Linked DNA regions of Homo sapiens: region 1 is linked to region 2. The links come from fine-mapping of genetic effects on gene expression. A gene starts in region 2. The other region holds a variant in brackets. All regions are shown on one strand. Distances are between the middles of the regions.

Region 1 (11,501 bases), 610 kb after region 2:
TGGAACACTAACTCAATGACCCTTGGCTTCTGAACTGCTACTGGGGTAACTGGCTGATACATCTGTTTGGTATGAATCTGCATATTTGCTCATTTGCCAAAAATGTAAAGTGGAGCCCTGAATTAGTTTCAGTTCACTTAATCACTTTGAAGCCGAGGAATCAGCTGAATATATCATAATGCTTCCCCCTTCCCACACCACACCACATTTTATATGTAAGCGAACATTCAAAAAAGCCAACTTAAAAGCAGAGTGTCCAGAATGTTGATTCACAGAGATGCAGACAGCCTTTGGCTGAGCATACATTCCTCTCATTTATCTAAATGGGAGCCAGGTGCTTGCACCAAAGAGGAGACTGACAAAAGGAAGCTTTTTGGGAGCTCTTATTTTCAAGTGTAAGGCAACACTTGTATCTTCTTAAAGGAAGGCCCCTTTAACTGTATTTCACTCCCTTCAGCAATGTGTGTATTAATAGATAAGTGTTTGCTCCAGGGTTTCAAAAGTTGTCCTTCTAACAGAATTAAAGTTTAACCTTCATTAGTCCCAGTGGTATTATCTCTAAAATAACTTCAGTTGTAGTTCTTTAATGCCATGTTCATTTTATTTTATCATGGTTCTTAAATTATAATAATCGTCTCATCCCTTAGATTCAGTATAATTTTGTATTTATATTGTACTTAGCAGACTCAGGTTATCATTAAATGTTCTACAAAAATAAAAACATGGGTTCAGTAGCTGTAACCAACCAGTAGAGATGAAATGTGTATGAAGAAAGGGCCTCACTTCCTCTTCAAAACACCAGTTTGAACAATGTCTTGCATTGCTCCTTTTGGCTAACATTTATGTCATCTTTATTTCGGAGCATAAAGAGCAGTGAGTGATGGAGTTACATTTTGGTTTAGAAATCCATTTATGTGAAATGAACTCAGTTTGCTGTGCCAGCTTCACCATGCTGGACAGGGCCCTAAATCTTCTCCTCCCAAGCCCTGGACTGTTTCCTTGAACTGATACTCTGTTATAGTTTGGATTTGTGTCCTTGCCCAAATTTCATGTTGAATTATAATCCCCAGTGTTGGAGGAGTGGCCTGGTGGGAGGCGATTGCATCATGGGGGCTGTGTCTAATGGTTTAGCACCATTGCCCTAGTGCTCTCTTATGATAAAGTTTTGCCAAGATCTGGTTGTTTAAAAAGTATGTAGCACCCCTCCCCATTCCTCCTGCCAGCTATGTAAGACATGCCTGCTTCCCCTTCACCTTCCACCATGATTGCAAGTTTCCTGTGGCCTCCCTGCCATGTTTCCTATACAGCCTGCAGAACCATGGGCCAGTTAAACCTCTTTTCTTTGTAAATTGACCAGTCTCAGGTAGTTCTTCTTAAAAATTTTTATTTAAATTATTTTTTTAAAAGATGGGATTTTACCATGTTGGCCAGGCTGGTCTCAAACTCCTGGCCTCAAGCAATCCACCTACCTGGGCCTCCCAAAGTGTTGGGATTACAGGTGTGAGCCACCATGCCAGCCTCAGGTAGTTCTTTATAGCATTGTGAGAACACACTAATACATGCTCATTTGTCAAGTACTGATTCAGTCTCTACCATGTGCCAGGCACTTTACAAGATACTGGCTTTTAGCAGTGAAGGAGACTGATAATATGCCTGACCCCATGGAATTTACAATCTAATGGGAGACACACAGCAAAAGCAACTTAGCCCCCTCAATCAAGATCATTATACAATAATGATGTGGTTGACACAAGGTGCTGGGAAGGAATAATTTCTGGATACAGGGAGAGTGCTGGTAGTCAGGGAAGGCTATTTTTGTAACCTAACTCGTATGGTGATGGTAAGGGAAGGCTCCTTTGAGGAGGTACTGAGATGAGAGAGTTCCTTGATCCCCTCAGGGGTCTTGTGACAGGGGTATGGACCCTTTGATCAAACCTCTTATGGAAGGGGGAGCATGCACACAGGCAGCTGCAGGAGCCACATTGAGTGCTTTTGGGTTCCAGCCTGACGGTAGCATCTAGGGGTGTGTTACAATTAATGCTCTTTCAGCAGTTGCCATCTGTGTACAGCTAAGTGTTAACAAGCTCAGTGGAGAGTCAGGGTGACATCTTTTTATACCCTGCCCTCTTGGTACCCAGGTCCTTTTATGGAGTCCAGGAAGAATCAGGTCAAACCAACTTGAAGGATGGTGAATGCAGGAATTTTATTGAGTTATGGAGGTGGCTTTCAGCTGGATGGGTGGGGAGCTGGAAAGCGGATGGAGTGGGAAGATGATTTTTCCCTGGAGTTTGGCTGTCTTGTGGCCAAACTCCTCTCTGACCTTCCCCAGCCAAACTCCTCTCAATGTTCAGATGCTCCTTCCCTTCTCTCCTTCTCTGCCACTCTGCCACTCTGCCACTCTTCTGCTTGTGGAGCCTTGGGTTTGAGGTTTGTATGGGTACAGCATAAGGGGTGTGGTGGGCCAAAAGGGAATATTTGGGCATGAAAACAGGAATGTCTGTTCTCATTTAGGGCCATGGGTTTCCAGGCTTGAGGGTAGGGCCTTTGCCAGGGAACCCTCCTCTTCTACCCTGTATTTCGCTGCCTCCTGTTCATATCAGTACCATTTAAGGTGAATCCCAGGGTATGAAGGCACCAGCCTTGATGAGACCCAAGAGAAGGGCACCACAGGAAATGGGAACAGTAAGTGCAAATGTCCTGACAATGGAATGATACCAACCTCTGTCCCTCAACCCTCACCTCAACTTCAGCTCCCACCAGTGCCTCCAATACATTTTTTCCCATTTATCTTTCACGTATGTAAATTGATTTAAGATTCCCTCTGGTAGAGCCCCTGAAGTACCCCCAAAGCCAATCTTATGTAACACCGAGAAGGCAGGGGTTTTAACAAATTGCATAAACTAGTATCTAAAACTAAAAATATGCAGCTTTTCTAGAAGATAGCGCCATGGGGGCAGAGTCTGTGTTTTATCAGGGGGCCCCACGAAACTGATAACTTTCTAAGGCATGTCCTGTTTTACATCCTGTGAATCTATTTACAGACCAATGTGAGGAGTTACTATTTTGTCTGTTTTGTCCCCTCTAAGCAGGCCTCTGAAATGTCCCTAAGTTCCTGGATTCTTTTAATGCTGGAGGGAAACTGACCAAAAGGCAGCCCCAGCATTGATTGTTGTATTATTAGCCTGTGGCCTGCAGGGTTTCCCCACTACAGTAGGGACATCATCATGCCTACATTCTTCCTATTCCAGGAAGACATTTCCATTGAAAAGAGGTAAAATGGTAAAAAGGGGTGACAATGCATGTAAATAATCTCACCATCTGCCTAGAGTAGGAAATTGAGGAACACAAAGGCAAGGTGACTTTGCCTGATGAGAGTGGGGCTGGGGTAGGCTGGTGACCAATTCTGAGCCCAAATGACTTTTTATGAAATGTTCCCTGAGCACACCTGATTCCCAACCCCAAGGGTACTGTGAATTTGCACAACTTCTGTGCACCCCAAGTACTCTGTCCTTGCCCGTCCCAGTGAATTGGAGAGTATCTCACCGTAAACCTATATCCTCATTTGCATGGTGAACTTCTCTGTGTTTTGCTCTCTATGTTCAGAGTGCGTGCTCAGAAGGTGTTTGTCACAAATAAGTAGATGATATATAATCAATACAGCTCCATCAAAGCAATATTGAAAATGTTGACTGTAAACCAGCAGTGGTACCAGAGTCCTGATGGACTATGATAACTGGAGAAGGAGGAGGAGAGAGGAGACTTCCTCAGCACAAGCTCTACCCACAGTGAAATAAAGGCCACCACTCACTTAGCACTGCTAATCTTTCATCTACATAGACATTTTATTTTCCTTTGGGAGATAATGGGCAGAAAGTGGAAGAACTGAGATGTTTTGATGAAATTATTTCCTTACTTAATGGGAAAGTCTGAATGCTTTTTGTTGCTGTAACATCTATCCAAAAATGTGTGTTTCAACCTCTCTGCCTCAGCAACTCAGCAACTTTAATATTTTGAACAAAATGAAATCTTTCTTTGGAGGTTGAAAGTATTGTTATGCCTTGAGAACATCATAACATCCAGACCCCTGCCCTGGTTTCTTTTGGACAACGCATAGGAAATACAGTTGAGTCTGCCCTGACTCCAGGGCATGACACGCACATTCTTTGAGTAAATCTTAAAATAATTGAGTTTCCCTATGACCCATGCTTTTCCCCTGAAGTCATAAGCTATAAAAAGTTCTGATAGGTTTATGTTTCTGGTTAATCAAGGTTTACTGTCTGCTTTAAACTTAGTGCCAGGTGACACCTAGTAATCATTCTTTGTTTGGAGCATCACAGGCAACAGAGAAGTCAAGTTCATCACCAAGAGGCAGCTGTACTCACATCCTGGAAGAGATTCAATTAATAAACCTCTCATCTTTCTTCATTTTATTACCCCCAGTAGGGAATCTTTTAGCCTGATGCTATTAGTAGACAGGGCATGACCTTCCACTCTACTGTAATATTTTATCCTTTTCTATGTCCTCAGTTGGTGTGCTTAGTAAGAAGTTTCTCAAAAAATGGATATGGAGAGAGCAGGATAATTCCTGCCTTCCTAGAATATGTCCCAGTGATAAGTGGGCAATGAATGCTGATGAGTATTGATTACTTCCTTAATGAAGCCACATGTTCTGGAGTGTGTATATGTGTGTGCATGTTTTGCAGCTGCTGTCTAGACTATACTCTGTATTACTCAACCATCAGGATGATTACAAATAATGAAAGAAAAAAAATGAAATGACATCGGCTGCATTAATTTTACCCATCTACAGTACTAACAATGTAGTTAAGAAAACATCCCCGGGATGTATTTTGCCTTCATAATGTATCAGTGGCAATAGGTGCAAAGAGTTTCTGGAATTTCACTCAAGTCACAGATGTGAACATGTTTTTATAAATTGATAAAGAAATAATTATTTTGACTAGAGCATGGAGTAGAAGTGGGCTTCATTTGATAATGATTATTATTATTATTATTTTCTTGAGATGGAGTTTCGCTCTTGTTGCCCAGACTGGAGTGCTGTGGTGCGATTTCTGCTCACTGCAACCTCCACCTCTCAGGTTCAAGCGATTCTCCTGCCTCAGCCTCCTGTGTAGCTGGGATTACAGGCATGTGCCACCACACCTGGCTAATTTTTATTTATTTATGTTTTTTGAGGCGGACTCGCTCTGTCGTCCAGGCTGGAGTGCAGTGGTGCGATCTTGGCTCACTGCAACCTCTGACTCCCAGGTTCAAACGATTCTCCTGCTAATTTTTGTATTTTTAGTAGAGATGGGGTTTCACCATGTTGGCCAGGATGGCCTCGAACTCCTGACCTCAAGTGATCCACCCACCTTGGCCTCTCAAACTGTTGGGATTACAGACGTGAGCTACTGTACCAGGCCAGATACTGATTATTTTTGATGTCATCTATTTCTGAAGACAAAAGGACCTGGGTCAAACACCTACACACTGGGTACTTGATCAGGTAATTTGCCATCCTGAGCCTCAGAAACTTGCCTCAAAGGCTTGTTGGGAGGATAAAGCTGAGGAAGAAGCATGTCATAGGAGGAGAATGTTGGCTCTGAAGTCTGACAACCAGCTTTCACCCCTCATTGACTGGGTAACACTGGATAAACTGCCTGTCTTCTCTACGTCCCATTTTCCTCATGTATTAAAGGTAGATACCAATAGAGTCCTCATAGGATTTTTGTGAGGAATTAGGTGGAGATATTGCAAGTCAGATGACTGTAATATAGTAGGTGTTCTTAAGGTGTCAGGGATGTTCATACTCTCCTCATAAGCCTGAAGAACTTCTACTTTTCATATAAGATTCAGCTTAAATGATGCAAGCCTGATACCAAAATCTGACAAACACACTACAGCAAAGAAAATTACAGACCAATATTCTCCATGATTTTAGAGGTGGAAATCCTTGACAGAATTTTAACATGTGTACTCTAGCAATATATAAAATGATAATACATCATGAAGTGTGGAATGGAAAGGTGATTCAACACTGAAAAATACCAATCAACTCATCATATTAATAGAATAAAAAAGAAATGCTACAAGCTCATTTTAATAGATGCAGAAAAGGCACTTGATACAATTTAACACCCATTCATGAGAAATGTTCTCTGCCACGTCACAGCAGAAAATATATTTCTCAATTTGATATGGCTAACATCTTAGTGGTGATATATTGAACACTTTCCCCTTAAGACAGGAAGCAAGGTGAGGATGTGCACTCTACTCATTTCTATTTAAAACTAATGACTAGACAGTGAAATAAGGCAGGAAATAAAAAAGACATAGATTAGAAAGTAAAAAGTAATACCATCTTTACAGATAACATAATTATATACATAGAAAATCCTTAAAAAGATCTAACAAAAATTCAAAATAATTTCTAGAATTAATAAGTGAATTTTACAATGTCACAGGACACAAATCAATGTATAAAAACTAGCTGTATTTCTATGTACTGGCACCAAGTAATTGGAAAATGAAATAACAAACTACTTTTATAATAGCATCAAAACCCAGGAAACACTTAGGAATAAGTTAGCAAAAGATATACTGTCTTTTGGGAAATGACTCTGATGCTGTCCTAGACATCACAAAACAAGTGTTCACAGGCCAAATTAAAACATTAGGTTAAAACCCAAATCACATGCTTTGTTTAGTTAATTAATAACATAAACCAAAAAATCAAGGAGAAAGATCTGGGGTATTTTAATATACTTTGGTGAGGAGGCAAGTAAGTAGAAGAAC[C/A]ATATTGTCTGGATCCTGGGCCATGCTATGTTCACTTGTCCTGTCTCTCCTGTTGCTTAATCAGCCTTCCCCTCTGATATGATTAGAGGGACAAGAGCTGAAGTTTGAGCAAGAGGGGAAAAGACAGAAGGTGTCCTGGGCTAGTAACACATGCTTGCTCTGTTGGAGAGATGCAGGCACAAGAAAACCTGGCCACAGTTTTAACTTGCTATTAGTTTGCTGAACAGCCATGGGTTTTGTTTTTCTTGGGGCCAAAATGGATGTCATTAATGGGTGGTAAATCAAGACCTTTTGAATATTGAGTGTTCATGAATATTTAATGTATCCTGAATAGTTTGTGCTGTTTGTATATTTAGCACTGCATATGTCTCATACATATTTAATAATTCCTGAATATTTATCTGAGGTGTATCCTGAATACACCTCCATGACATTTGGTGTATCATGAATATTTAGTATCCTGGTGCCTCATGAATGTTAGGCATGTTTTGCACCTTCCATCCTTTTCTTCTTACATTGGGTACGCACATGCTTTACTTTGTAACTACTTATCTTGTATAATACCTCTTGTGAATTGTCTGTTCTAACAAAGATTTTGCTTATTATGCTATCTATACTTAAAACACTTTAAAAGTTTTTGCTAATGTTTAAAGTTTTTGCCAATGTTACCAACTACAAACATTTTCATCTTTCATAGTAGAATCAAATACTCCCAAAAGTCAATGTACATTACATGTGTAAGACCACTATACTGAAAATTATAAAACGTTGCTAGGAGAAATTTAAACAGACCTATGTACATGGAGAGGTATACCATGTTCATGTTTTGGAAAACTCAATATTGATAAGATGCAAAATTTCCCCAAATTGATCCATCAATTCAACATAATCCCGATTTTGAAAGTCCCAGAATGCTTTATTTTGTGGGGAAGGTAGAAATTCACAAACTGATTCTAACATCTGTTTGTAAGTGCACAATAATTTTGAAAAAGAATAACGAAGTAGAAGGATCTAAGCTACTTGATTTCAAGCCTTACTATTGGTGTTAGAATACACATACAGAGTGGATTCCACAAATAGATTCACATATATATGATCAACTGACTTTCAACAGTAGTGCCAAAGTAATAAATGTGGAAAAAGAATATTTTCAGCAATTAGAGCTGGTTTAACGAAATTTTTAAGAAATGCACTGCAACCCATGTCTCACACTATGTACAGAAATTAATTTGACATGTATCATTGCCCTAAATATAGAAGCTAAACAAAGAGAAAAAGATAGGCAAACATTTTCATCATTTTGGGATAGGCAAATATTTTTTAGACACAAAACACTCCAAGAATAAAAGAAAAAAATGTACAAATTGGACTTTATCGAAATTAAAAATTTCTGCTCTTCAAGGGACACCATTAAATCAATAAAAAGGCAAACCATAGATTGGGAGAAAATATTCACAATGCATATGTATAACAAAGGTCTCATGCCTAGAACTCAAAAATAAGATAATTATTTTTTTAAAAAATGACCAAAAACTTGAACAGATACATAAATGAAGACTACAAATGTTCAATAAGCAAACAAAAAGATAATCAAACATCACTAGTTATTAGATAAATGCAAATTAAAACCACAACAAGATACCACTTTACTAAAATTTTAAAAACCAGTGATACCAAGTGTTGGTAAGGATCTGGAGGATCTAGAACTCCTGTATTGCTGTGGGAGGAAAAAATTATGCAACGACTTTGGAAAACTATGCACCAATTTCTTATAAAATTAAGCATACCACTATCTGTGACCCAACAATTCTACTGTTAGGTACTTACCAGAGAAATTAAATGTCCACAAAAAGACATGTATTTGAATTTTCATAGCAGTTTTATTCGTAATAAATTCAAACTGAAAAGAACCTAAAAAAACCATTGACAGAAAAGGATGAGTTCATGTCCTTTGCAGGGACATAGATGAAGCTGGAAACCATCATTCTCAGCAAACTATCACAAGGACAGAAAACCAAACACTGCATGTTCTCACTCATAGGTGGGAATTGAACAATGAGAACACTTGGACACAGGGTGGGGAACATCACACACCGGTGCCTCTTGTGGGGTGGGGGGCTGGGGGAGGGATAGCATTATGAGAAATACCTAATGTAAATAACGAGTTGATGAGTGCAGCAAACCAACATGGCACATGTATACCTATGTAACAAACCTGCACGTTGTGCACATGTACCCTAGAACTTAAAAAATAATAATAAAAAACCATTGACAGAATAATGTCTAAACAATACAAAAATGAGAAACCATAAAGGGTACATATGATATGTGCCCTCAGAAGTCTCTGAATCCTCCTATGGGCTCTATGTATGCTCCTATTGGATGTGATGGCTGACAACTGCTTTGTTGACCCCGTCTCCACGTAGGCAGTGGAGAGCAGAGCTTTCTGTAGCAGGTAGCTGAAACAGAACTCAGGGAAGAGGAATAAACTTCCCTACTTTTCTCTTTTATACCCTCGGGAGGGGTTTCACACCTTCTTGAATATAACCGAGCAAATACACTATAACAACTGTAAAAATAAGTTGTTATGCAATGGAATATTATTCAACCATAAAAAGGAATGAAGTACTGATATACACTACAACATGGATGGATCCTGAAAATATGCTAAAGGAATGAAGCCAGATGCAAAAGGTCACATAGTGTATGACTACATTTACATAAAATATCCCAAACAGGCAAATCCAGAGACAGAAAATAAATTAGTGGTTGCCAGCAGCTTTGCAGGGAGGTGGGGTGGTGGGATAGGGGAGGGGATGGGAAGTGACTGTAAATGGGTATGGGTTTTCTTTTGGAGTGATGAAAATAGTCAGGAATTAGATTGTGGTGATGGTTATACAACATTGTGAATATAGAAAAAGTCACTGAATGGTAAACTTTAAAAGAGTGAATTTTGCTGAGCATGGTGGTTCACCCCTATAATCCCAGCACTTGGGAGGCAGAGGCAGGCAGATCACTTGAGGTCAGGAGTTTGAGACCAGCCTGGCCAACATGGTGAAATCCCGTCTCTACTGAAAAAATACAAAAATTAGCCAGGTGTGGTGGCACACGCCTGTAATCCTAGCTACTCAGGAGGCTGAGGCAGGAGAATTGCTTGAACCTGGGAGGCAGAGGTTGCAGTGAGCCAAGACCATGCCACTCGCCACTGTGCTCCAGCCTGGGTGACAGAGTGAGACCGTGTCTCAAAAAAAAAAGAGTAAATTTTATGCTATGTGAATTATATTTCAATAAAAATACCAGTTGATACTTTTCAGTCCTTATTTTCTCTCTGTTGCATTTTTCATTCTTAATGCCTTCTTTCTTGACTCACTTTCTTCTGCTTTTCTTTTTGATACATTCTTCTTCTGATTTTACCTCGACTTCTCAGATTCATCCTTTTAGATTTTCATTGGTTATTCTTATTTCCATATTCATTCCTCAAAGCAATATTGATGGTCCTCAGAGTGTTGTCATGGGTCTGCTCCACCTCCGGGCATCTGTCTGCCTGTTGTTTCCCTTATCTTCTGTATCATGGTTGATGGTATGTCCATATGTTCCACCCACAACTCTGTCCTCAACTCCATGCTCTTACACTCAACTTTCCATGCTTGGCTGTCCCACAAGCTCCCAATCTCAACATGCGCCAAACAATTTACCTTTGCCCCAAACCAAACTTGCTAGTACTCTTGTTTTCCTTATCTCAGAAAATTAGGGATCCTTCTTGACATATCCACTCCCCAGGATGGTCTCCCAGAGAGGGTGTTGGCTCCCAGCAGAACTTCATAAAAACTGGCCACAACCCCATGCTCATGGCTTTTGATTCTGTTAAGGTGTCCAGGTGGCAGGTTGGGATAAGAAGCCTCTGTGTCATCCAGTTGCAGCAGAAGTTTGGGCCTCACTTCCTGTTTATTTCAAGAGAGATTCTAGCAATCCAAAAATAATAATTAAGTGAAAAAGAATCTAGTGTAATCATGAATGATTTTGTTTCAGCAACAGGTAAACACTTAATTTTTAGCACATTGGAAATGAGAATAATAAATATAAAAATAAAACAAAAATGCCTAAATAGTGGAACTACTTAATTTAATTTCTCTTTTATTGCTTTATGGATGTTGTTCATGGATTTCCAAACAAATCCCGGAAAAAAAGGTAAGTTGTTTTGTTAGGGAAATAACATCTCATCCTGGTCCATTCATCATTTCAGAGTGACAAAGCAAAACCACATTTATCAAAAAAATTTACAAAGTTAGAGAAAACACAACTATAGAAATAAAACTACTAGTGTTCTTAACAATGGTATAAAGAAGCTGCAGAAACCCATCTAGGCAGGAAGAGAAATGAACAATCTGGTGGGATGCCTACAAAACACAAAAGACCTGCAAAGGAGGAGGCCTGAGACAGCTATGAGAATGATCAGAAGCAGGGGGAGAATGAGTTAGAGCTCAAAGAAATAAAAAATGAACACTGCCAAAACTGTCTCAATGAAGAGTTTTCAAATCACTAAACACAATATTGTTAAAAAATAGCATGGCTTCACTGCAGTGGTCTTCAAGGGCTTATTTCAGATGATAAAGAAAGACCGGAGCCATGAAATTGTTACTTTGCATTTGGTTTAGAAAAGGAACAGAGAGTTAAGATCTACTTCAGATCAAAACGTCAATGTCCAG
Region 2 (11,501 bases):
AGTCTCATCCCAGTGTTGAGTTCACCTGATGAACCCTGACCCTTTTCCCTGCCCAACTCATCCTGCAAATAGAAATCTTACTTCTAAGGGAATCCATTTGTCTTTCTTCCCATTACTGTGGTTCAAAAACTGATACTACAGCTGCAGAAGGCAACCCAATATTTAAGGATTTTAATCACAGAATCCTGTAACTAAGACTTTCTTTAAAGAAAGACAACCAGTTCTTTTTTATGTCATTTATTTAGAAAAACCCATTTGCCCCTAGTGAATGTACTAACCTTATTTAAACAAAGATAAGTGAGGGAAGTAAGAAGTGATTTGAGGAATGAGCCTGGGATCTGAGGCCCACCACACATTCCTTACCTTCAACTTACCTTTCCAGTCTTCTCCCACCACTGCTCCACCCACCTGAGATTCTAGGTGGAGCAATCTACAGGATACTCTCTGAATGTGGTTCCAGCTTCTCTTGCCTCACACTCTTGCTCATAACATTTCCTTTCCTTGGAAACATTGCCTTCATCTCAGCCCCATTCAGTCTTTACTTGTTCACATCATACTCTTCTTTCAAAACCCAGTGGAAAAGCTCAATTTCTCATGTAGCCTTACCTAACTCCATGCCTCCAGAAAGTCATGCAAACTCATGCCACAACACAGCCAACAGCAACATACCATCGGCATGGCACTGAGAGCAAGCAAAAAGGACACGGGGTGACTTCACTGTCTCCACTTGAAGAACTTAAGGTCTGTCTGGGTGAGGGGTGTACAGTCTTAAATATTACAGCAATCATTTATTAGAAATATTCATCTGCTTCTAAGTTATATAAACACTTTTAATGCAAACATTCAATAGGGCATATTTCCCACTGCTCTCAAGATTTCATCTCTTTCTGCTGCCGTAGGCATAAATGGCTTCACTCCGTTCTTTCTTCTCTGCATCACGATAGAATTCTGTGTACAGGCATTAAAATAAAAAAGAAGAAACCAAAATCAGTCATGTATTAAATGCTAATCATTTGCCAGTAATTTGCTATTGCTTCCTCAAAAAGGAAATTCTAAAAACCAAGTTTTTTTTAAAAAAAAAATCCCAAAACCTAATTATAGGACTCCAGATAAACGTATTTAAATTAGTAACAATTAAATAGAAGTACTCATTCCCACAGGAATACATTAACAGCAATTGGGATGAGAATATACAAAGTACAAAGTACAAAAGTATATACAGTCTGTCAAGAAGAGCTACTGAATAATCGTGAAATAAAACCAACAGTGCATTTAGCAAAGCGAAAGGAAATAGCTGGATCCCGTGGTTCAAGGAAACAGAAATTATATACCAATGTTTTCAGAAAAATGGACCATTTTAACTTCCACGGATGGCAGTGAGAGAGAAAAAGGCAGAAATTGAAGCCTAACATGATGTGTTATGACAAGGGAAGTTAAACATTCTGTTCATCTCCAGGAAAACTAAATTTATAACAAAGACATTGTTTTAGGGCTGCAGATACTTAAATGTCTAAGAAGACCCACCTATATTAAAACTGCATTCTTATAGCTTAGAGGACGACGAGGCAGCTAACAAGAGCTCTCAAGGATCTTTCACGGCTAAAGTAGCACACAGAGGATAAAGTTGAAAAGTTAAGTTTCCCTACAGCCATCAGTGGGAAAGGATTGTGGGTACTGACTAATTTTAGGCTTCAGTTTCAACCCTAGGAGATGGGTTTTAACACAAAGCTAACCAATCTAGGCTTACCCAGAATCTCCGGCAGTTTTTGTACCTCAAGAAGTAAGTGGAACACCTTTCCCTGTCATAGTTATTTTCATCCAGACATCTGGTGGAAGCATCAGATTCCTTACAGATATAAGAGAGGCATCATTTAAAAGGTAGAACAGGATCTAAAAGCAAACAAACAAACAAACAAAAGCTGCTTCCCCAGAAGCAAATAATGTGAAATAGTTCATTTGTGTTCATTTTGATGGGTAGACTAATAAAAACTGGACAATCTCGCCAGCTATCCCAGTATGCACTCTGCTCAGGCTAACATCTTCCTTTTTATAATGTGGGCCAGTTTTCTGAATATGTGATCACAGGAATTTGAGCCAAATAACTGTGATCAATTAATCCAGTAACCATTTTAGTAAGAAACTGAGGCAAGGTGCAATGTGTTAAATGACTACTGCACAACTAGAATCAGAATCCATCTCCTGACTCACAGTACATCTCTCCTGTTTTTCCAGATTTTCACTTTGGCTTCAATGTTTGATCATAATATTGGTTTCAAGATTCCAAGTAAATCACTAATAACTGGTCTACAACAAGACAACCTAAATTAACACCATTCATCTCAATGCATTTTTGGCTACCATTTACTCCATTATACAAATACACTATTATATAAGCAATTTTAATAGATATTACTTCAAAACCGAAGTCAACAACACAAGCTATAAATTCAAAGGAAAGTAGGTGCCACATGGGGATTAAATTTAAGCTGTGTGAACTGGAAGTAGATTGAATAACAAACTTAAAAGTGAAAGGTATGATTCTGTGAGGTCACCTAAAGCAGGGGTCCCCAACCCCCAGGCCACAAAGTGGTACTGGTCTTCGGTCTGTTAGGAACCCGGCCAGATAGCAGGAGATGAGCAATGGGCAAGTGAGCCTTACCGCCTGAGCTCCCCTTCCTGTCACATCAGTGGCAGCATTAGATTCTCATCTAATGCTATTAGATCCCTATTGTGGGATCTAATATCACGAACCCTATTGTGAACTGCGTGCATGTGAGGGATCTAGGCTGCAAGCTCCTTAGGAGAATCTAATGCCTTTTGACGCCCGCCCCCTTCCCCATCCGTGGAAAAATTGTCTTCCACAAAACCGGTCCTTGGTGCCCAAAAGGTTGGGGAACACAGATCTAAAGGAAAGCTTTAGCTATATGGGTAGACAGTTTGCAACACATATCTAAGAAACATGTTCTACGTAAACAGAACAAAGCTGAATTTCTGTGCCAAATATTTAATGAATGTATATATTTGGAAAATGCATATAACTAAAGAGTATAATTTTCATGGGACCAGTATGATAACTACATTATTCAAACGTAGCAAAGCCACAAGTAAGTATCGCAAATCATACCAAATAAATGCCAATAAAAGCTTACTCTTAAAACATTTTGTTTATCAGATACCTTTGTGAAAACCTTTAAGCTTTAAATAGGCTAATTATATTATCAGCCCATTACTCTCAGCCAGGTTGTCAAGGACATGGTGATATTATTGCTAGTGAAACAATAAATGTCAGTGACAGTTTAAAAATATCATACCTTCCAGTTTTCCATGTTTGGACTAAATATTCTCAGTGTTACATTTTCCTGTCTAGTTTTACAGTGACAACCAAATGCTTGCATATTATACAAATAAGGAAAACTAAAGAAAAGATGAATGTTTGTTAGAGAAATTATAAACATCTAAAAATGCTCTAGTTAAATAGGATATGCTGGCCAACAATATTTTTTCTAGAGAAATAACTTTATTCAACAACTGCAGAAAACAAAGGCCCACAAAACTAGAGCAGCCTGTTTTTCCAACTTAACACTCATGAAAATTAAAGCAAACCATCCTACCGACAAACAAGGATTTATGTCAGGATCTCTCAGCCTCTGTGTTACCGAGGGCATTCTAACAGTCTTCTTACTGAGGGTAGACAGAAAAAAAATAATTATACAGTAGTTGACAGAAAATAAATCAATACATCTCAATAGCACTAAAAGTACCTGAAATTTTGATTTTGGCATAATGATCACTTAGTGAGGAACTTCATGTATTCTCTGTACTTTGTGAATAAAAACTTGAACGTGTTTTTCCTTTGTATTGCCATGCCTCAACACAAAGGCCATATATTGGATTGAAATGCATCTACTGGCTGGGTGCGGTGTCTCACGCCTGTAATCCCAGCACTTTGGGAGGCTGGAGCGAGAGGGCTGCTTAAGCTCAGCAGTTCGAGATCAACCTAGGCGACACAGAGAAACCCCATTTCTACCAAAAATACAAAAATTAGCCTGGTGTCGTGCCGTGTGCCTGTGGTCCCAGCTACTTGGAAGGCTAAGTAAGGTGGGATAGCCCAGGAAGTCAAGGCTGCAGAGAGCTGTGATTGCACCAGTGCACTCCAGCCTGGGTGACAGAGAGAGACCCTGTCTCAAAAAAACGAAAAAGAAAGATAGTTCAATTATAATTCAGTTGTTGTTTACTCTTATTCTTAAGTTTAAGCAACCAAATGTACTAATAAAACCTAAGAATACAGTATGCATTCCAACAATTACTTCCTTATTTTACACCAATTAGCGTACAAAATAAGAATGAAATTCGGTACAGTCCAACTTTAGCAAAAACATTCATCAACTGAAGTACCAGAGTGCCTATTTTATGGCCAATAGTAGGGTAGCCAACACACCAAAAAGCCAAGTTATTGCTTAGTTGACATTATGAAAAGCTATACTGTTTCAAAAACAAAAGAGTTGAAATTTTACTTCCAGTGGCATCTTCTTTTTAACTATTTCCCTGCGTTGCAGGAAGTCAGGGAATGCTACTGTGCTTCAGTAATCTTCCAATTCAATTCCTAGAGATACAGCTTTGCAAAAGTTTAGGAGGCCGAGTCGGGCGGATCACGAGGTCAGGAGTTCAAGACCAGCCTGGCCAACATGGTGAAACCCCCTGTCTACTAAAAATACAAAAATTAGCTGAGCGTGGTGGCACGCGCCTGTAATCCCAACTACTCAGGAGGCTGAGGCAAGAGAATCGCCTGAACTTGGGAAGCAGAGGTTGCAGTGAGCCGAGATCGCGCCACTGCACTCCAGCCCAAGCGACAGCAGTGGAAGACGCCGTCTCAAAAAAAAAAAAAAGAGACACCCAGCCCAGTTCTACTATGGGAAAGATCAGGACGTCCAGGCCAAAGGAGACCAGCCTTTGCAAAAAAAAGAATGGAAAAGGGTTTGGTTATTCTGGTGTCCATTAAGTAATCACTGAATAATAATTTTATGATTTTCATTGAACAATACAAGAAAATAACCAGCCAACAGTAACATCTTGGCAAAAAAGAAATCAAGATGCTGTTCAATTATATCTACAAGCTTCTTCCTCTCCTGAAGACAATTTTTTTCCACACTTCCCTTCTTCCTAAGAGAGATGATGATAGTAAATAAATTCACAGCTTTCTTTTTTACACCTATCCTATGATGTGAGAACACAGAACTCTTCATACACCTTAGATTTAATAATCTCAACAAGGATCAGACAACCTTGCATTAAATTTAAGTTTCGTGCCTTACATGAAAGTATCCTACTCTATATTTTATTGTCAGTCAGAAATTCTTCAAAAATAATACCTAGGTAACATCACATATACCCAGTTCGAGTTTGGTGCATGAGTTTCTTCACATTTCATTTCCTTTTCCTTCCGGATTCTAAATACAAGGCACTCTAAGTTTGGATTTCCGAAAGTCCCCTCCTTTGCATGAGTTCCTCGTGTATTAACTGGAATTGAAGAGGAAATGTCAATTTACAGTGAGGAGCGGGGCTGAATTACAACATCGAGTGCTCCGCTAAAGGGGCCTTGTCTATTACTTTTTGAATGTACTAAATAAATGTTACAAGGCTCTACTACTTGCAGAGCATAACCAGAAAGAAAAACCAAGCAAAGATATGAAGGAGGGGCCACAAAACCATAGCACATTCAGGGGATAACTCTAAAATCCACTCCAAAGGGCAAACTGCTTAATAAAGCAGTTCCTGATTTCCCATCCAGTGGTTCACGTCCCCCCTCTCTAAGTAGCTTTGAAAGGGCAGGGGGAAGGAAACGTTTCTGAACACGTTCATGCCCACACGCCCCGTGGTCGGAGCCCAGGCAGGGTCCGCGGCTCTGCTAAACCCGGAAGCTGCACACGCCGTGCCGTTAACCCACTGCCAGGTGCAAAGTGGAAGGGGGCAAGAAGTCAAGGGTGGCCTGCCGGAGGTGGGCGCGCAGGGCAAGGAGAAACGAAGGGCGAACCCGAGGCCTCGCCGCCTTCCGCGGTGTAGCCCGTCAGCATCTGATCCTGGACGGCGCGCACAGGTGAACACACCTTGCTGTGCCGAGACCATGCCGAGAGAGACAAGGGGCGAGGAAAACGCAGGGAACTGGGGGTGGGGCCGGTAACTGCGCTTCAGAGGCTACACAGGAGAGTGGAAGAAGAGCTGGGGTTGCCCGGACTAGGCAGAGGTCATCTTCCTCGCCCCCGGAGCGAACAGACCCGTGTGGCGGGAGGAAGAGCAACGGGAAGAGGTCCGCGCTGCGGCGAAGCCTGGCGGGAGCGCCTCCGCGCCGCAGAAGTGCATTCGGGCCCCGCTACGGCCCAAGGGCACCCCTCTCTCCCCGCTTTTCTGCGGCCGCTTCGGAGGTAGGGCGGGGGAACCACTCACCTCCGGCCTCCGCTTCGCCAGCACCCAGGCCGTCTCCAGCTCCAAACACGTCAATGGCTCACGCAGCAGGACCTTAAGTAGCGCGCATCCCAACTTGCTGCCCCCGCTCCCCGGCGGCAGCCCGCCCAATCGGCGCGCGCCGCCGCCAGACTGACAGCCGCGCGGGGCCCTGGGCCGCAGGGGCGGTCGGGCCTCGCCCCGCCCCCGCCTGGCGAAAGGAGGGCCGAGGCGGGAGGAGTGGGCGGGGCGGTGAGCGCGACCCCGCCCCCTCTTCCCCCGCCCCACCGCGCCCCCCAGCCGCGGCCCGTCTCTTAACACTTCGGCTTGACGGGCGGCGTCGCGGCCCAATGGGCGGGCCAACTCCCGCCAGCGGCGGCTCCGAGTGGCCAGCTCTCGGGCGGAGCGCGCGCGGGGGGCGGGCGCAGCGGCGGGCGGGGTTTGGGGGCGGGCCGACGGGAGGCGGGGGCGGTGGCCGAACAGGCAGGGGGAGGCAGCGGTGGGCGCGACGTCGGCGGCGGCGGCGGCGGCGGCGGCGGCAGCTGCAAGTTGGGCTGCAGGGGCAGCGCATACACTACAATGGCTGCTGGAAAGAGGCGTAAGGAAACAATTTCCAGGCCCGCCGCGTCCAGCCCGAAATATGAGAAAAAAATTATTAGAAATTCCGCGGGCGGTGTAGAGGCGGCGGACGGGCCGGAGGGAGGATGTTAAAGCCCCGCGGTGAGTTCTCCGGGGGTCCGGGGCGGCGGCGAGGCGTTTAGCGGGAGAAATATCAGGGTTATTTAAATTATGGGACTAGCCGAGGGGGCAGAGGAGCAGCGGCGGCGGCAGGAGGAGGAAAAGTTTGTGCTACTCTCAGCCCCTGCTCAGGACCCCAGAGAGAAAAATAATAATAAAAAATAAAATAAAATAATTACGCGGGGCTGCGAGGACTCCCGAAGTCGCTTCTGACAGGGCAGGGGGCGATGCGGCTGGGGACCCGAAGGTGAGGTCGGTGGGAAAAAAAAAAAAACCTTTATTCAGGGTCTGGAAAGTTTGAAAAGTTTTCCTCCTCCTCCTCCTCCTCCTCCTCTCTGGTGCTGTGAATATTGTGACAGCGGCAGCGGCAGCAGCGAGAGCGGAAGACATTAGAGACCCGAAAAATAAGGGAAAAATTAATATAAATTCAGTTTTGAGAGTAAACTCTCCGCATTTTCCACCAAAACATCCCGGGGGAAGGTCGCTTCCCAAAGGGCCTGGCGGAAACCCGCAGTCGGCAATATTTGGGGGGCACTTTGAGTGACTTGGGGTAACTTTGCCCCTTTTTCAAAAGAGGTTTTTCTTTTCTGGAGAAATGAATTTGTTTTTGCCCTTTCCTCAGGTGGGCAAGCCGGGGTCGGGGTGCGGGGTCTGCAGGGAGGTGTGAGCCCGGGGTGTGTGGCTGCGAGGGGGGGTAGGGGGAGGGGGTGCTAAATGAAAGCAGGAGATCGGCACAGAGCAGGGACAGCTTGTTGTCAGTATCATAAACAACCAAAATGGAGGGAGAACTCAGGCATATAACCAAATAAAAATTTTTAAAAAATCGCAAAAAATCCCTAAAAATCCGGGATGCTCCCCCTTTTCTCGCTAAAGGTAAAAGTATGTACCGCCTTTCCCCTGAAGTCCATTTTGACTTTGCAGGGACCAAGGAGTTAATATTTATTTATTTTTTAAAACTTTCGAAGGGCAAAAGCCTTTTATAACTCAACCGACAATGAGAAAACGTGAAAATCCGATGCAAGAGAAGCAGGGGGAGCGAGGGGGGAGGTGGTAGTGCAGAAACTGCTAAACTTATTGGTAATGTGGACTGATCTCAGATAAGATAAACACTATATTTGCTATTTTATAACTCTCTTTTAATGATCTTTGCGGGGTTTTTTTGGGTGGAAAAAAAAGTGATGCCATTTTCTTAATAGAGTTAATATGTGTGATTGGAAGAATGAACCTTTCCGGCTTTAGATTGCATTTTCGTCGCATTTATGCTTCAGGTTTTGTTAGTGGCTCCCTCCTTTCTTTAAACTGGGCTCTGCAGAGGAGGGATAGAGAGGTGATGGTGCTCAGAGAGGCTGGAGTGCAAGGCTGGAGTACCTTTTGGGGAGGGATGTGGAGTTGCTTGGTTTCCCCCTTCCTGACATGTTTGCTTCACCTGTTCATCCTTCCTAAAGAATGTTAAGCTGAGGTTTTCTGGTTTTATGTGTATAAAAGGATGATGTCTCTTGCATCACATTGATGTTAATGGGAAAGTGCTGCTGATGTTGGTTCCACGTGGGATATGGGACAGAGCAGGGCATTTTAAAGGGACAGCTTCTCTTTTCTTATGGTTTTCATCACCTACACAGAATCACTGTCTGAGGACCAAAAGCAGAGGTGCTGGGAGGGTGTGGTGATGGAAGAGCCTTCCCTTTCTGTTACTCCAGTGCACCCACCCATAGGAGTGATGGAGGGACAGGAGGGATAAACAGCCTCAACCGAAGATGGATATGTGTATAGTTTGTATCCAAACTGTTCCTTTGTGTAACAAGCCCTCCCAGGAACTTTTCATGTTACATTGCTTTGCTTTGGAAGCTGATTTTGGAAGGAATTGTGGAAAAATGGAAATAGTTTAAGGTGTGTGGTGTAATGGTATAGCATTATTGAACAGTTATGAATTCTGTGCAGTGAGATCAAAGAGCTGTGTATGCCCATAATGTGATTTTACAGCCATTTTGTAAAAACTGTAAAATACCTTAATATTCAATTTGGCTTAAGGTACATTGAGGACTTCTGGTTGAAAATTACAGAGTGGTGAAGATTCTTTAAAATTGTAAGCAGTAGGCATTTCTTTAGGGGGAAGGAAAGCACACACACCAACACCATGGAAAAGTTTACACATCCATTTTTAAAGTCCATCCTATGCATGGGTTGTAACTTTGCGCCTTTGAAATGAAAAGATTTTTAAAATCCTGAGCCCTGTGAGTTTTCATTTTCTAAGTTGAATTTATTTGTGTTATTTAACAGAAAGTGTTTACTGACCATAAACTACTATCGGCTCTTATGTTTTAGATTTCCACGATATTTTCAAAATTTAAAATGTGTAAATTGTTAGCTGTACTATAATGGGGATTAAGGTTAATCTTCAGTAGAAATTACTTGTGTTCCATTTTCCACAGGTATATGGAGTTTCTGAAATAAATCCTTATTTCCTCTTGTTTTTATTATTTATAGACATGGATTAAAATTAGAGCTGAATTTTTAGACTTCTTATATAGAATGTTTTTTCTTGCCCTACTGTATAAACAAGTTATTATTTTTGTAGTCTATTGTATGTTAACTTGTGTTTACAACTGAGTTCTTCCAACTTTCTGTAAATACCTCTATACAACATCACATCAGTAACGTGTTTGAGTACATCATCTTGTGGTTTCTGATTTTGGAAGCAATTACAACTTTCTAAGAACTCATTAAAAGATTAATCTCATCACCCACAGTTAAATCAAAATTGATTGGAAAAGGATTAAGCTATCAATAGAGAAGGGAAACTCCTCCATGCCCAATGATCTTCTGTCCAGAGGTTTCAGAATGCCATTAAGACTTACAAAGCCTTTTCATTTTATCTTACGTTTTCATTGTATTTTGGCTCAAGACAGTTACATTGACTATAAGTAGTCAGAATTATGCTGTGCATTTAAAATAAATGAGACTTAGATCTTGAATAATTGCCACTTTGACAAACCAGATACTAATATCAATAAATTCAATCTCTATAAAAAAATGAAGGAATTCAAGTTATATTAGATTATCGTGTTATTCAGGTTGTTTGGACACTATGACTGGTTTATTGTCAATCTAAATAAAAGTGCTGGTATTGTGATTTTTTTTCTTCCTCTCATATAGGGTGGTGTAAAACTTTCTTCATGTTTGTATTTTATGCAACTAGCTACTTGTCTGTTCAGAAAACGCACTCAGAGTGCACCAATCTAAAATCTGTAATCGCTTAGAGAGTCTTATTTAGATGGGGCACAGCACAATATTTAATTTGAAGTGATTGTACTGAGCTTTTGTGATGCCTTAGAAATACTACCTGTTGAACATCCTTTTCTGAAGCTATTAAATTATACCAGTATACAGAAATAATGTCATGATATTGTGTAGTCAAAATCTTTATTTCAGTTGGAATCGGAGAAACCTCATATATTGATAGTCTTATTTGAAATTTATATGCCTACTTTTGCTACTTGAAATTCTATAAAGAATTTATCTGCTGTGGAAGATTTATAAGTGTGGGCTAATATTGACACATTCTATATCTGTATATTATTACCAAAATATTTTAGTAAATAGTAAATAGATATTTATAGCAAAATAAATTAGTGAATTTGCTTTATCAGTATAGTTTTAAAATTTGAAGGGTGCTGTTTGTGTTTTAATAACATGCACAGGTGGGGGTTATTCCTTCATTTTTAATGTAATCCTGATTGTCACTATGTACATTTTGGTTTGATATTCTGCAAATTTTCCTTTCTAAGGATTAAATTTGTTGTTTCCTAAATTAAATGTGATGCTCCTGTCTTAAGTGAGATTTGGAAAGCCAGATAACTAAAACATATATCTATAGCTATCTTTGAAGTTTTGTTTCAGTAATCATTTGCCTCTTGAGCTGTGTAGTCAAAATAATTTTATCTAAGAATGTTTTAATATTTTTTCTTTAGAATCCTGTTCTTTGGAAAATTAAGATATATAAAAAATTACCAGTTACACACATCCCCAAGGAAAAAAAAGTTTTACTGAAGAAACTTACTTACATTGCTTGGAATACATATTCTTTTTGGTGTGTTTGCAAGTGTATAAGAAATAAATATTAATTTTTTCTCTTTATATTGATAACATCTTAGATTCTTTAATTATTTGAGTAAGGGAAGAGTTTCAAAAGGAGGAAACTGAATCTGTTCAACAAAATCCAAGGTAGTGAATATGATCAAGGTAAAAGGGCTATAAATCATCCCTTGAGCCATTTTTAAATGTCTTAAGAACCTGATAAACACCTTTTCTGAAACATTGAATACTTT

Evidence for each region. PIP is the estimated chance that this variant, and not a neighbour inherited with it, causes the effect.
Region 1: its variant is fine-mapped to the expression of CHCHD7 in whole blood (TOPMed, PIP above 0.99).

Annotation. Positions count from the first base shown.
Region 1 is chr8:55,598,604-55,610,104 of GRCh38, reverse strand. No RefSeq gene overlaps it. Among named protein-coding and RNA genes, the nearest start is that of XKR4-AS1, 83 kb to the right of the region's middle. The variant C/A (reference allele first, on the strand shown) is at 6,796.
Region 2 is chr8:56,206,778-56,218,278 of GRCh38, reverse strand. It overlaps CHCHD7 (coiled-coil-helix-coiled-coil-helix domain containing 7), which reads right to left and starts at 6,490. Exons shown (of 4, transcript NM_001011671.3): 1 at 6,442-6,490; 2 at 3,612-3,681; 3 at 1,748-1,846; 4 at 1-948. The coding sequence starts at 3,665. The coding sequence ends at 844. PLAG1 (PLAG1 zinc finger) reads left to right here and starts at 7,006. Exons shown (of 5, transcript NM_002655.3): 1 at 7,006-7,158. RefSeq lists enhancers at 4,242-4,741, 6,312-6,381 and silencers at 6,394-6,619, 6,462-7,021, 11,443-11,501.